4 linked regions of the Homo sapiens genome follow. The protein of the gene in region 3 purifies or fractionates together with the protein of the main gene of each other region. This does not show direct contact. Each region holds a gene or a part of one and is shown on either strand. Other genes may lie near its edges.

Region 1 (3,624 bases), on a different chromosome or scaffold from region 3:
TGTCTAGCCAGTTTTTTTGCCTTTTTAATTCTTAAGGTTGCTCAACAAATTATTTGCTGAGACAAGAATAGGGTTGGAGTGTTCATTTATTTGTGGCAATTTTATTGGGACATAGAAAGGAAAAGTGTTAGAATTGAGGGATCAGATCTGGTAAGTGGTAAATTGTATGTGTTTAAGGTGTCTTATACTCAGTCTACAGTTAGCATCGCTCCTTCCTCTGCCTGGCCCCCCTCCTCTAACTTCTAGACTCTAGTTTAAAATGAAGCTATTCGGCTCTGCTCAGACCGGTATGTGGAAGGGAGAAAGGTAAGATTCTTCAGTCCTGTGAAATCACATCATTCAGGGAGGTTTGGGCATTGCCTTTTGGAACTGACAGGGTCCAGGAGTGTCTGAGGCTCTACTCTGTTTCGTTAGGACCCCTAAAGGGGAGAAAGGTATACTTGGGGCACTTAAACTAGGAAAGGAGTTTTGTGAAATCATATCAGGTATCTTTGACCTTTATTGAAAGAGTCAGGCCGGGCGTGGTGGCTCCTGCCTGTACTCAGTACTTTGGGAGGCCAAGGCAGGTGGATCACTTGAGGCCAGGAGTTTGAGACCAGCCTGACCAACATGGCAAAACCCCGTCTCTACCAAAAAATACAAAAAAATTAGGTGGGCATGTTGGCGTGAGCCTTTAGTCTCAGCTACTTGGGAGGCTGAGGCAGGAGAATTACTTAAACCCGGGATGCAGAGGTTGCAGTGAGCTGAGATCACGCCACTGCACTCCAGCCTGGGCAACAGAGCAAGACTCTGTCTCAAAAAAAAAAAAAAAAAAAAGAGTCAGAAGTTAATTGACTGAGCATCTCATAGTGTTCTCTTTCCAGCTTTCCTATGGATTTTCTGAGAGTCTTTGAGTAAGGAGGAACTAACCTTCTCAGGTATGTTTTCGCTATCTGGTCATCCTGACTGCTGCTTCTTTGCAGTGTCTTTTCTCCCTACTGTTCTTCTCTGCTGCTTCTGTATCTTCCTTGTTTTTCTTTCCTTCTCCACAGTACTCAAGACCAACTTCTGAAGTCCTCTGTTTCAGACCTGTGTATGTAGATACAGTTTCTATAGAGTTACTGTAAATGTTGCATAGTGAAAAGAGTAAGTAGCCACTGTTTACCATTTGTAGGTTGGCTCTTCATGCCTCTAAGATTCCTTATTTTGTTATCATTTCTGTTATTGAACATCTTTAAAGAAGTTCTTAGGTAGTAGAAAGTGCTTGCACTAAAAATAACTTTTCAACATTTTCCTTATCTATTAAGCTACTTTCTCCATTCATTATCTTGAACAATACCATAATATCTTCATAATACATGGATTTTTTAATTTAATTTTTGTCAAAATTGTACATGTACATGGTTTAAACAGTCAAATAGTTCAGTAGAGCTTGTAACACTAAATAATAGTTTCCTCTCCCGACCCACTTTTTTTTTTTGAGATGGAGTTTCGCTCTGTTGCCCAGACTGGAGTGCAGTGGTGCGACCTCGCCTCACCACAACCTCTGCCTCGCGGGTTCAAGTGATTCTCCTGCCTCGGCCTTCTGAGTAGCTGAGATTACAGGTGCCTGCCACCATGCCTGGCTAATTTTTTGTATTTTTAGGAGAGACGTGGTTTCGCCACGTTGGCCAGGCTGGTCTCAAACTCCTGACCTCAGGTGATCCTCCTGCCTCAGCCTTCCAAAGTGCTGGGATTACAGACTTGAGCCGCTGTGCCCAGCCTACTTTTTGTATTTTTAGTAGAGACAGGGTTTCACCATGTTACCCAGGCTGGTCTAGAACTCCTGGCCTAAAGCAATCCGCCCACCTCAGCTTCCCAAAGTGCTGGGATTACAGGTGTGAGCCACTCACTGATCCTGGCCATCACTATATTTATTTTTTCTTTTCTTTTCTTTTCTTTTTTTTTTTTTTTTTTTTGAGACTGTGTCTTGCTCTGTCGCCCAGGCTGGAGTGCAGTGGCACGATCTTGGTTCACTGCAACCTCTGCCTCCTGGGTTCAAGTGATCCTCCTGCCTCAGCCTCCCAAAATATTGGGATTACAGTTGTGAGCCACCACACCTGTCCAATTGTACTTCTTTATTATGGACTTTGAGGCTCTAGGTCTCTTGTATCATCAACCTCCCCCTACTCCTCCTCTTACTCACTTTATCCTCCCAATATAGTTTGCTCATAATTTTTGGTTAGGCTAATATCAAGATTTATATTAATAAAATTATGTTAGTATTATTCTCAACTGAATAGGGAGTATGATATACTAATATTTTCTTTACTCTTTTTATTTATTTATTTATTTTTTGAGATAGGGTCTCTCTCTGTCACCCTGCCATAGCAGGATCACAGCTCACTGCAGCCTTAACTTTTTGGGCTCAAGCAACCTTCCCACTTCTACCTCCTGAGTAGCTAGGACCACAGGTGTGTGCCACCAGGCTTGGCTAATTTCTAAATATTTTGTAGAGGTGGGGGTCTCACTACATTGCCCAGGCTGGTCTCAAACTCCCGGCCTCAAGTGATCTTCTCACTTTGGCCTCCCAGAGTACTATGATTACAGGAATGGGCCATTGCATCCTGCCTGTGGTAACATATTCTATCTTGTATAACTTTTTTGTCTTCCCTGGCATTAATAATTTTTGTTACTGTTTTTATTAGCATGGCTTTTTGTATCCTTATCTCTTGTTCATGCCCGGATTATCCGGTAGAAGTATGATTCTCCTCTCCTGGGTACTGTCTATGTCGTCCAGCATGAGCTGGTTGCTCTTTATGTCTGTTCACAGCTCTTGTCCTGGGATCTTCCTTCACCTTTTTCCTGGGATTTCCCTTTGCTTCTCTGTATTGAACCCTAGTTTCTGGATCCCATATCTCTACTGCCAACTTTCAGGTCTTCAATTGTGGTAGCTCTCCTTACTTTGATCCTGGAGCATCCTGCGAACTCTTTGCCTCATGTAGATTTCAGCCTTTGAGGTCTTCTCTTTGTTCTTTTTTAAAGTACAGGTTGAGCATTCCAAACCTGAAACTCCAAAATGCAAAATGCTCCAAAATCTGAAACTTTTTGAGCACCAACATGATACTCAAAGGAAAAAAAAATGATTGGAGTATTTCAGATTTTGGATTTTTGAATTTGGAATGCTCACTGGTCAGTATAAAGCACATAGTCCAAAAACTGAAAAAGTTTAAAATCTGAAACACTTCTGGTCTCAAGCATTTTGGACAAGGGATACTCAACTTGCAGTATAAACCGTAGTGATAGAATCGTAGACTGTTAGAGGTGGAAGGGACTTTCAAGCTTACCTAGTTCTAACCCTCCAGCTCCCTGGCACCTGGAAATCCTAGAAGACCATAGATTGTTCAGCCATCCCACCCCGTACTGCCCCCCGAACCTGTTTTCTGACATCCATTCTTGTCTCTCTAGTACACCAATAATGTGGGCTGAAGAGTCAGACAGTCTTTAATATTAGGCTCCACTCAATCCCTTGGCTGTGTAACTTTTGGCAGGTTTCTTAATCTTGTGGTCTCTTTCTCATCAGTAATATGGGGATTATAAACTTACATTACAGAGATGTTATAAGGATGGGAACTAATGCAGATAAAGCAGCTTTACAAGGCTCTA
Region 2 (3,624 bases), on a different chromosome or scaffold from region 3:
GTAATTCAAAACCTCACTAAAGAAGGAACCATTAAAGCAGCATCCTCAATTTGCACTTATATTTCTACTTGTAATCCTCCACAGTTGATAAAATTAGAAATGTATCTGAAAACTTCTGATTTATACTGGAGTCAGAAAATAGTATAATTCAAAATGAGTTTTTAAAATTCTTACAAATTAACAATAAAAACAAACATACCAACAGAAAAAATGGGCAAAGGGCTGAATATGCAATTCAAAAAGGAAATCCATGTGGTCAATAAACGTGAGAATGTTTGCTCTCACAATAATCAAAGGAAAGTATATTAGAAACTGAGATCCCGGCAGGTGTGGTGGCTCATGCCTGTAATCCCAGCACTTTGGGAGGCCGAGGAGGGTGGATCACCTGAGGTCAGGAGTTCAAGACCAGCCTGACCAACATGGCAAAACCCTATCTCTACTAAAAATACAAAATTAGCCGGGTGTGGTGGCGCATGCCTATGATCCCAGCTACTAGGGAGGCTGACGCAGGAGAATCGCTTGAACCCAGGAGGCGGAGGTTGCAGTGAGCCGAGATTGAGCCACTGCACTCAAGCCTGGGTGACAGAGCAAGAATCCGTTTCAAAAAACAGCAACGACAACAAAAACAAAACTGAGATCCCTTCTACTGCCCAAACATTAGCAGGATGGGGGTGGGGGCACAGCCTGGTATAGGGAGTCAAGAGCCCCATCAGACCATGCACACATGGAGGTGGCCTGACGAGATGTTAGCCCGAGTAGGATGGGGAGGCATCCCTGTAAGAGGGCAGCCTGGTCTGGGGAATCTGAGGGTGAGTGAGATAAGCAAGGCATCCATATGGGAGAGGTGGAGACTATCCCGAAAGACTGGTTACATATGAGGGGTAATTAGGTAGGTAAAACATTAATCATAATAAGAATCAGGTTAGGACAGATGGAAAGGGCAGATGGAAAGGAGTGGTACATTCATACAACCAAATAATATTCAGCAATAAAAAGGAACAAATTACCAATAAATACAAGAACACAGATGAGTCTCAAAAACATTATGTTGAATGAAAGAAGCCTTATACCAAAGAGTACATGCATACTGTACAATTCTACTCATGAAGTTGTAGAACATGAAAAACTAATCTACAGAGGAACAAAACCAGAATAGCAATTGCTTCTTGGGGGACAGGTACAATGATTGACAGGGAAGGACATCAGGGAACTTTCTGGTTGATGGTAATTTTCTGTCTTGATAGATACACAGATGTGTGCATTTATAAAAACTCAGTTGACACACTCAAGATTTGTGTATTTTGTTGCACATAAATACTAAACTCTAGTTACTGATATGCACACTCAAGTATACAAGGAATTAAGTATACATATAATGGCACATACATTTTGGATTGGAAAGCTAGATGTAGGGATAGGTGTGCAATAAGAATAGGGAACTATTAATTACAGAATCTATGTGGTGGCTACATGAAGCTCACTCCAATTTTTTTCTGATTTCCTATAAGTTTGTTAATTTTCATAATAAAATATTGGAGGAAACCAATAGGAAAAAAGCTAGAATGAACCATGAGGTAGTACTAGAAATGGGAGTATAGTATAAACCCATGTTTTAAAAAATACATAGATCTAAAAATATACACATGTATACATTATCATACATACATACATATAATTCCATTGCTCTGTTCACTGAGAGGATCTGGGAATAGCAACACTCCAATAGCAATGAGCACATCTAGCACCCAGATCTTGGCTTCTAAATACCATTCTCCACTTTAAAGGAACCAGGGCTCCTTGAAGAAACAGCTGATTCTAGGACTGGATCAAGGAGAGCACAGGATGAGCCTGGTATATCTTGTTGTGCCAGAAAACAATTGCAAAAAAATAAAAAAATAAAAAGTGGGGTGTAGTGGCTCACACCTGTAATCTCAGTGCTTTGGGAGGCCAAGAGACAAGAGGATCACCTGAGGACTGGAGTTCGAGACTAGCCTGGGCAACATAGAGAGACCTTGTCTCCACAAAAAAAAACATTTAAGAAAGAAAATAAGCAGAGCTTGGTGGTGTGCACCTGTAGTCCCAGCTACTCAGGAGGCTGAGGTGGGAGGATCACTTGAGCCCAGGGGCTTGAGTTAACAGTGTGCTATGATCATACCACTGCACTCCAGCCTGGGCAATGGAGTGAGACCTGTACTGCATATGTAATTTCTTGTAGGACTGAAATTGTTTCAAAACATTTTTTAAAAATCATAAACAATGAGACATCATCCTACAACTATTCAACTAGGAAAGGGTAAATAAAATGCCTTCCTTGTTTGATTAGGATGTGGGGAAATGAACAGTTATAAATGCTAGTTGAAATGTAAACCTGAACATCCATTCTGGAAGGCGTTTGGCAACAAAATAGGAATTCTACTTCTAGGAATTATCTTTTGAAAATAATCATGGATGTGTGCAGAGATTTAGCTACAAGGACATTCACCACTCCAATTACAGAAGAGAAAACCAAGCACTAACGTCAATGTCCATCAACAAGGGATTAGTATAATTACACCATATCCATACCATGGAATATCACCTGTTATAATTTTATAACACTTCAGGGTGGAAAAAACAATTATGGCATACTAAGTTTACAAGGTTACAAAAATTGTTTTTTGAGACAGGGTGCCACTCTGTCCCCCAGCCCGAAGTGCAGTGGTGCGATCTCGGCTCACTGCAGTCTCAACCCTCTGGGCTCAAGCAATCCTTCCACCTCAACCTCTCGAGTAGCTGGGATTACAAGTACATGCCACCATATGCAGCTGATTTTGGGATTTTTTGTAGAGATGGGGTTTTGCCATGTTGCCCAGGCTGGTGTCAAACTCCTGAGTTCAAGTGATCCGTCTGCCTTCACCTCTCAAAGTGCTGGGATTACAGGAATGTGTTATGTTGTCCAGGCTGGAATGCAGTGGCTATGTTAAAGGCCTAGCCCAAGAAGAGCAGTGGCTGTTCACAGGCGCAATCATAGTGTATGCAGCCTTGCCTGGCTCAGCGTTTTTTAAAAAGTACACAAAGACTGAAGAATACACATTGAAAAGTTAACAATGGTGGCCACTGCTATACCCAAGTGTCGGGATAGTGGACAATTTCACTTTCTTCTTTTTTGCTTACTATTCTACAACAAACATTTTATAACAAAAACTCACATTTTACTTCTCAATTGAGCCCTTTTTAATATGGCATCTCCCAAGGATACCAAATTCCAGAGTAGAAAGAGGTCTCATAAATCAAAGTTCTACTGCACTCCAGCCTAGGTAACAGAGTGAGACTCCATGTAAAAAAAAAAAAAAAAAAAAAAAAAAAAAAGAAAGAAAGAAATCAAAGTTCTATCTCAGGAAACTGAAGTGCAAAAAAGAAAGGACTTGCTCTATGGCTGGTCAGTGGGACAGCTACACCTGGTTTCCAGTCCAAAGCTATTTCCACTCTGCTTCACTGCTTATCTCAACCACCTGCTTGGCAGGCCACAAAGTCCACCATCAGAAACTTTCATCAGTTTTGCCCATTTTGCTACCTTACTTCACTAAACGTGGACAGCAGCTTTCATAAAACCAGCAGGCTCCTACCAGAATAGAAGTTCTAGTG
Region 3 (3,624 bases):
GTCCTTTTGTTGATCAAGGTCTTAGTGGTGGCCGTGTATATTTGAATATGTTTTCAGTTATTAACCCTTCATCATGTTATAGTTATTCTGGTCATTTTACTGATGCTTAATTGGTAAGAATCAATTTCACTTGGGATAAAAGTCAGAAAAACAGAAATTGTGAGTTCCTCTGTGAAGATCAAAGGACCTTCAAGGACCTCTGAATAGCCAAGAATAATCACTCCTATTTTTCATCTTCAGTGGAAAAAAGAACCCGTTATACCTTTCTAGCCTATTCTGGGATAAATAACAAATTTTATTTAGTGTAAACTAACAAAGAAAACAGTGGAAGTTAATGAAATGTAGTCTCTATAATTTGTTAGACTTTTCATTTTTTTTAATTTTTTATATTTATTTTTAGTTGGACTTTTTTTTTTTTGAGAGAGATTTTCACTTTGTTTCCCAGTCTGGAGTGCAATGGCGGGATCTCAGCTCACTGCAACCTCCATCTCCTGGGTTCAAGTGATTCTCCCTGCCTCAGCCTCCTTAGTAGCTGGGATTACAGGCGCATGCCACCACGCCCAGCTAATTTTTGTATTTTTAGTAGAGATGGGGTTTTGCCACGTTAGCTAGGCTGGTCTCTAACTCCTGACCTCAGGTGATCTGCCCGCCTTGGCCTCCCAAAGTGCTGGGATTACAGGTGTGAGCCACCACGCCTGGCCTGTTGGATGTTTTAAAAAAGTACTTACTTGATATTTTTCTTACCTCTATTCAAAGTAACTTTTGAAAGGCCAAAATCCGTCAGTTTAATATGACCCTCATTAGAAATAAGCATATTGTCCGGTTTCAAGTCCCTGCACACACAAAAGGCAAATATTAGATAACCAAAAAAGGGCTAGTTTTAATGTTAGAATTTCCAGAAAAAAAGAGTTACAAAGGAGGCAAACCCTATTTATTTCCTCCAAAATAAAGATACTCATTGATGGCTTTGAAAAGTACAGAAAACATCTCTCAAAAGCAAAACATCTTTCGTACTGTTTATCAGAATCTACAAAAAAGATAAATTAATACTAGATTATCTTTGGTATCATTGGTTAGATATTCCATTAAAATAAAGAAACCTTATTAGATAAAATCAACCTCAAGCCAGTTCAAATTTACATTTACTTTCTTTTTTTTCTTTTCTTTTTTTTTTTGAGATGGAGTTTCACTCTTGTCACCCAGGCTGGAGTGCAATGGCACAATCTCGGCTCACTGCAACCTCCGCCTTCCGGGTTCAAGCAGTTCTCCTGTCTCAGCCTCCCGAGTAGCTGGGATTACAGGCACCCACCACCACACTCGGCTAATTTTTGTATTTTTAGCAGAGACAGGGTTTCACCATGTTGTCCACTCTGGTCTCAAACTCCCGACCTCAGGTGATCCGCCCGCCTCAGCCTCCCAAAGTGCTGGAATTATAGGTATGAGCCACCACACCTGGCCTACATTTACCTTCTTAAAGGAAGGTAAGATTGAGATTTAATAAGTCACTTAATCTGACTTTCTTTGCATAGAGAAAAACATTGTAAATCAGTTGGACTACAAAATATACCACTTTTGTATAATGCAGAGGAGCGGAAAGGATTCAATACTCTTCACATAAAATGCCATACTTAATGGGCCGTGGTAGCTCATGCCTGTAATCGTAGCATTTTGGGAGGCTGAGGTGGGAGGATCCCTTGGGCCCAGGAGTTAAAGAGCAGCCTGGGAACCTTGTCTCTACAAAAAAAAAAAAAAAAAAAAAAAAAAAAAGCCAAGAGTAATGGCACACACCTCTACTCCCAGACACTTGGGAGGCTAAGGCAGGGGGATTGCTTGAGCCCCAGAGGTCGAGGCTGCAGTGAGCCAAGGTCAAGTCACTGCACTGCACAACCTGGATGACAAAGTGAGACCCTGTCTCAACAAAGAAAAAAATAAATAAATATGTAAATACAAAAATAAATAAATACATGCTATACTCATGTTCAAAGCAATATATTTTAAAAAACACAGGGAGATGAAAGAAGAGTTAATTTCTAAATGAATACAAGTTACTAGTAAACTTTAGATAACCTGGAAATAAGTGCAAGTGGTTACTGTGAATATCTGAGACTCAAATATGTAATTTGATTACTTGAATTTTTAAGTAATAATTTGGAGAAGTCAGTCTTTACCTGTGGATGATTCCATGTCTGTGAAGGTAGTCTAGAGCCAGTGCTACTTCAGAAATATATTTCACAGCCATCTCTTCATCAAAATAACCATATATATGTAGGAGAGACTTGACATCTCCCCCAATAAGATATTCCATTACCTTTCAAAAAAGAATTTAATATTGTGAAATAAAAACAATATGATTACTTTAAAAATCTAGTATTTGGGCATTACAGTTACAATATTTGGCATGGCTCTGTAATGAAACGACCTTTTCTTGCTATTACTCGTAATACATTAATACTAGGTTTATTCATGTTGCCATAACAGTTTTTAATTAAAAATTAAACTGTTTAGGCTGGGCACAGTGACTCACGCCTATAATCTCAGCACTTTGGGAGGCCAAGATGGGCAGATCACTTGAGGCCAGGAGTTCGAGACTAGCCTGGCCAACATAGCAAAACCCCGTCCCTACTAAAATTACAAAAAATTAGCTGGGCCTGGTGGCAGCTAATTTATACAAAAAATTAGCTGGGCCTGTAATCTCAGCTACTTGGGAGGTTGAGGCACAAGAATTGCTTGAACCCAGGAGGTGCAGAGTGGCCAAGATTGCACCACTGCAGTCTAGCCTGGGCAACAGAGGGAGACTCTATCTCAGGCTGGGGTGCAATTATGTGCAATGGTATCTCTATTAGCTAGCTGCATACCACCATGCCCAGCTAATTTTTACTTTAATTTTTTTGTAGAGATGGAGTCTCCTTATGTTCCCCAAGTTGGTCTTGAACTCTTGGCCTCAAGTGATCTTTCTGTCTCAGCCTCTCGAAGTGCTTGAATTACAGGTGTGAGCCATGGCCCCTTGGCCTGTCTCTCTATGTACATATACATACACATACACACGCACCGTATGCATATATCTTATTGGTTCTTTTTCTTTGGAGAACTCTAACTAATATAACAGGTAAATTTGCCAAGGCAGTGAGTGCAGCCAGAATTCAAATGCAAGCACTCTGAACCAAAACATGGTTCTCTTAAATCACTAGGTTCAATGACTGCTTAATGGATAAAGAAACAACATAAAAATTATTTACTCACCAAGTAGACATTGTTTGCAGACTGCAGTGAATAATACAAATGGACAATGAATGGGCTTTTGCTTAGTGCCAGTGCATCTCTCTCAGCTTGGACCTGATGAGTCATATTTTTGTTGATCATGTCTGCTTTTTTAACAACCTGTAATAGATAAAATAAAAGTGATATCATGTTATTTTATTTTGAGACAGAGTCTCATTCTCTTGCCCAGGCTGAGTGCAGTGGCATGATCAAAGCTTATTGCAGCCTTGATTTCCTAGGCTCAAGTTATCCTCCCACCTCAGCCTCCCAAGTAGCTGGGACTACTGGCACACATGACTACATCTGGCTACTTTTTAATTTTGTTGTAGAGACAAGGTCTCACTACGTTGCCCAGGCTGGCCCAAA
Region 4 (3,624 bases), on a different chromosome or scaffold from region 3:
TATTGTTAAAAAGAACAAATAAAGCCCAAGGCCCAGGAGTCCACAAAGAAAAAGAGAGGGAAAAAAGGAGAGCAGGCTTGGCTTCTCGCTCACCTGCACATAGCTCCCCACGCTCTCCTGGTAGATCATAAAGGAAAGCAGGCTGCCCTGGGTGAGCTCCCCATCCTGCATCTGCTGCAGCCCACAGCTCAGCATCAGCATCTGCACCCCCAAGTGCAGCACCTGGAAGAGGAGAAGAAAGAGATGAGGCTGGGAATCTTCCCATTCTTTCCCCCTCTCTGCCTCTATGAGACTGAGCTGCAAAGGCCTCTAGAACCAGCTGTAGTTTCCTCTTCCCTTGCCCTCCCCCTTTCCTGGGCTCCTTTCACAACCACTCTGGTATCTTACCCTCCTTACGAGCAGGTACAAGGCGCGTTCCAGGTCTCTCCGCCAATACAGCTGCCGACATTGTTCAAGGGCCTCTTTATAGCGACAGACTTCATGCTCCTCGGCCCCAAAACTGCGAACGGTCTGCAGCCCTCCAACGGCTTCCCGCACCACCTGCCCCGCCCTGGCCACTGCATCCTGGATCTCCCGAAGCACTTCCTGGAAAAGAGGGCCAGCAAACACCAGGGCTGATGTGCAAAGACAGCAGGCCCCCACATCTTACTCCAGCCAGTGAGATGCTCCCTAGTCTACCTAAAAATACCAAACTGTTTCTCTCCCTCTTCCTTACTCTTCTTTCCAGAAGGAATAAGAGTGAAGGAGCAAGGGAACAAAATATTATTGAGCTCTCAGTGTTAGGTAGTATAGGAGATACATGCAATTTTTTTAACCTTCATTTGAGGTAATTTTCCCATCCCCAGTGTCTGAATCAGGAAAGAAGGGTAGTTTTCCCAAGGAGCCACAGATAGTTAAGAAAGGTGGAGATGTAATTCCAAATGGATCAGAGGCCTAAACATAAGAGCTAACACTATAAAACTCCTAGGAAAATGTAGAAGAAAAGCCTCATGCCACTAGATTTGGCAGTGATTTCTTGGATATAACACCAAACGCACAGGCAACAAAAAATAGATAAATCAGACTTCATCAGAATTTAAAACGTTTGTGCATCAAAGAACTCTAGCAACAGAGTGAAAAAGCAACCATGAAATACAAGAAAATATTTGTGAATCATATATCTGATAGGAAATTAATAGGCAAAACATATAGTGAACTCCCACAACTTAAAAAAAAATCAGAAAATGGGCAAAGAACTTGCAGACATTCTTTCAAGAAAGAAACATAAGTGGCCAAAATCACACGAAAAGATGCTCAATATTTACTAATCATTAGGGAAATGCAAATCAAAACCACAATGAGATAATCCTAATCACCTAATCACCATTAGAATGGCTATTAAAAAAAAAGACAACAGAAAGTGGTGTTGATGAGGATGTGGAGAAATTGGAAACCTTATGCACTGCTGGTGGGAATTTAAAATGGTGCTGCCGCTATGGAAAACTGTATGGTGGTTTGATACGATCTGGCTGTGTCCCTACCCATATCTGATCTTGAATTCCCATGTGTTGTGGGAGGGACTGGGTAGGAGGTAATTGAATCATGAGGGCAAGTCTTTCCCATGCTGTTCTTGTGATATTGAATAAGTCTCACGAGATATAATGGTTTTAAAAAGGGGAATTCCCCTGCACAAGCTGTCTTTTCTCTTGTCTGCTGCCATGTGAAATGTGTCTTTCACCTTCCGCCATGATTTGAGGTCTTCCCAGCCACATGGAACTGTAAGTCCAATAAACCTCTTTCTTTTGTAAATTGCCCAATCTTGGGTATGTCTTTATCAGCAGCGTAAAAATGGACTAATACATGGTTCCTCAAAAATTGTTAAATAGAATTGCCATATGATCCAGCAGCTCCACTTCTAAGTATATACCCAAAAGAACCAAAAGCAGGGTTTCAAACAGGTGTACACTCATGTCCACAGCAGCATAATTCACAACAGCCAAAAGGTGGAAACAACGCAAATGTCCATTGACAGATGAATGGATAATCAAAATGTGATATATGCACACAACAGAATATTATTCAGCCTTAAAAGGGAGGAAATTCTAACACATGCTACAATATGGATGAGGCCTGAAGACATTACGCTAAGTAAAATATGCCAGTCACAAAAAGACAAATACTGTATGGTTCCACTTACGTACCGCACCGGGAGTCATCACAATTCATGGAGACAGAAGGTACAATGGAGGTTGCCAGCGGCCAGGGGTTGGGGGTAGTAGGCAGTTACTATTTAGTGGGTACAGAGTTTCATTTTAGGAAGATGAAAAAAGTTCTGGAGATGGATGGTGATGATGGTTACCCAATAACAATGTGGGTTTCCTAAATGTCACTGAACTGTACACTTCAAATGGTTGAAATGGTAAATTTTATGTTATGTATGTTTTACCACAATATAAGAGAAAAAGAGAAGGTGGAGCTGACATTCAGACTTAGGACTTCCTGATGACGCCTCCTTTCCCTATGCTGCATCCAGACTTCTTCTGCTGATTTTAAAGGGAAAATCTCCCTGCCTAAAAGCCTCTAAGAAACCATTTTTAATCTTCGCAGTGGGGGCGGGGGATGTACAGACTCCTTTGAGAAGCTAATGAAAAGTTATCATCGCCTATCATCTCCCCTTCCTATTCCCTCCCCCATACCTTCACATACACTTTACATTTTTGTTTACAGTTCTGGAGAATCATGAATCTTCTGAAGTCAAATATCCATTGTTGGATGGCTGGACAAACAAAATGTAGTATATACTACAATATACCTTCTCCCCTAATGGCTGAGAAGAGAACATCTCTCTCTAGGGGATCCTCTAGCCACAAATGTGGAAGCCTCCTCACCTGTCAGTTTTATTCTCCCTTTGGGGTTCCCTTACATGCACGCTCACCTGATGGCGGGTGTTGTACACCTTCTCCGCTGCTATTGTGAAGGGCATGTGCAGCAGAGAAAGGAGGGTGAGTCGAGGCGATATGCTGAGCATGAAGCCATACAGCCCCACCACTTTCACCAGGCTTCGCAAGAGCACATTGGCATTTAAAGGAAGCCAGTTACTCATCAGGGTGGTATCCGAGCTCAGCCGTGAGTTCAGCTCCCCTAAGAAGGACAGAGCAGGTGAGGAAAAAGGAAACCATGTGTACTGCAGGGCCCCCAGAAACTCCCTCCTGACCGTTCCCTCTGACACAGCCCCCTCCTCTGAACATCCTCCTTCACTTGCAGAGGGACAGTGGAGGCTGCTTCTCCACCCTGTCCCAAACAAGAGAAAAGCATCCCCAAGTCCTGGCATACGGGTGAAGGCAGGAGGAGAGGCTGTGGGTGGAAGGTCACTGAGGGGCAAGGGATGTCCATGGGAATCTCAGACCTGGACTCCAGGCCCCACCTGTCTTAGTCTCCTGGAAGAAACCGAGGTCCTGGCGCAGCAGGGAGGAGAAAAGCTGCTCCCGGATCCGCAAGTTGATTCGAGACATGGTGTAGGTGAAGCAGCCTCCTCGGCAGCCTGCAGACAGTGAGCTGTGGGGTAGGAGAATAAGAGGGGAGGGAGATGCAGAGAAGGAGCAAGCCAGCGGGTGAAACAGAGGAGCAAGCCAGGAGTGCAGAGAA

What was found.
Region 1: the proteins of MASTL (region 3) and FASTKD5 purify together in Homo sapiens (affinity purification with mass spectrometry; one large-scale study listed by BioGRID and IntAct). This does not show direct contact.
Region 2: the proteins of MASTL (region 3) and DERL2 purify together in Homo sapiens (affinity purification with mass spectrometry; one large-scale study listed by BioGRID and IntAct). This does not show direct contact.
Region 4: the proteins of MASTL (region 3) and TAP2 purify together in Homo sapiens (affinity purification with mass spectrometry; one large-scale study listed by BioGRID and IntAct). This does not show direct contact.

Annotation. Positions count from the first base shown.
Region 1 is NC_000020.11:3,153,366-3,156,989, reverse strand, and holds part of FASTKD5 (FAST kinase domain-containing protein 5, mitochondrial), read left to right. Parts: intron 1-3,624. UniProt on the Homo sapiens protein: Plays an important role in the processing of non-canonical mitochondrial mRNA precursors.
Region 2 is NC_000017.11:5,476,179-5,479,802, forward strand, and holds part of DERL2 (derlin-2), read right to left. Parts: intron 1,822-3,624; coding exon of another isoform or gene 1,779-1,821; exon of another isoform or gene 1,671-1,778; intron 1-1,670.
Region 3 is NC_000010.11:27,158,303-27,161,926, reverse strand, and holds part of MASTL (serine/threonine-protein kinase greatwall), read right to left. Parts: intron 3,379-3,624; coding exon 3,241-3,378; intron 2,309-3,240; coding exon 2,169-2,308; intron 1,909-2,168; exon of another isoform or gene 1,789-1,908; intron 834-1,788; coding exon 745-833; intron 1-744. UniProt on the Homo sapiens protein: Serine/threonine kinase that plays a key role in M phase by acting as a regulator of mitosis entry and maintenance.
Region 4 is NC_000006.12:32,832,240-32,835,863, forward strand, and holds part of TAP2 (antigen peptide transporter 2), read right to left. Parts: intron 3,535-3,624; coding exon 3,404-3,534; intron 3,121-3,403; coding exon 2,915-3,120; intron 586-2,914; coding exon 388-585; intron 223-387; coding exon 94-222; intron 1-93. UniProt on the Homo sapiens protein: ABC transporter associated with antigen processing. In complex with TAP1 mediates unidirectional translocation of peptide antigens from cytosol to endoplasmic reticulum (ER) for loading onto MHC class I (MHCI) molecules.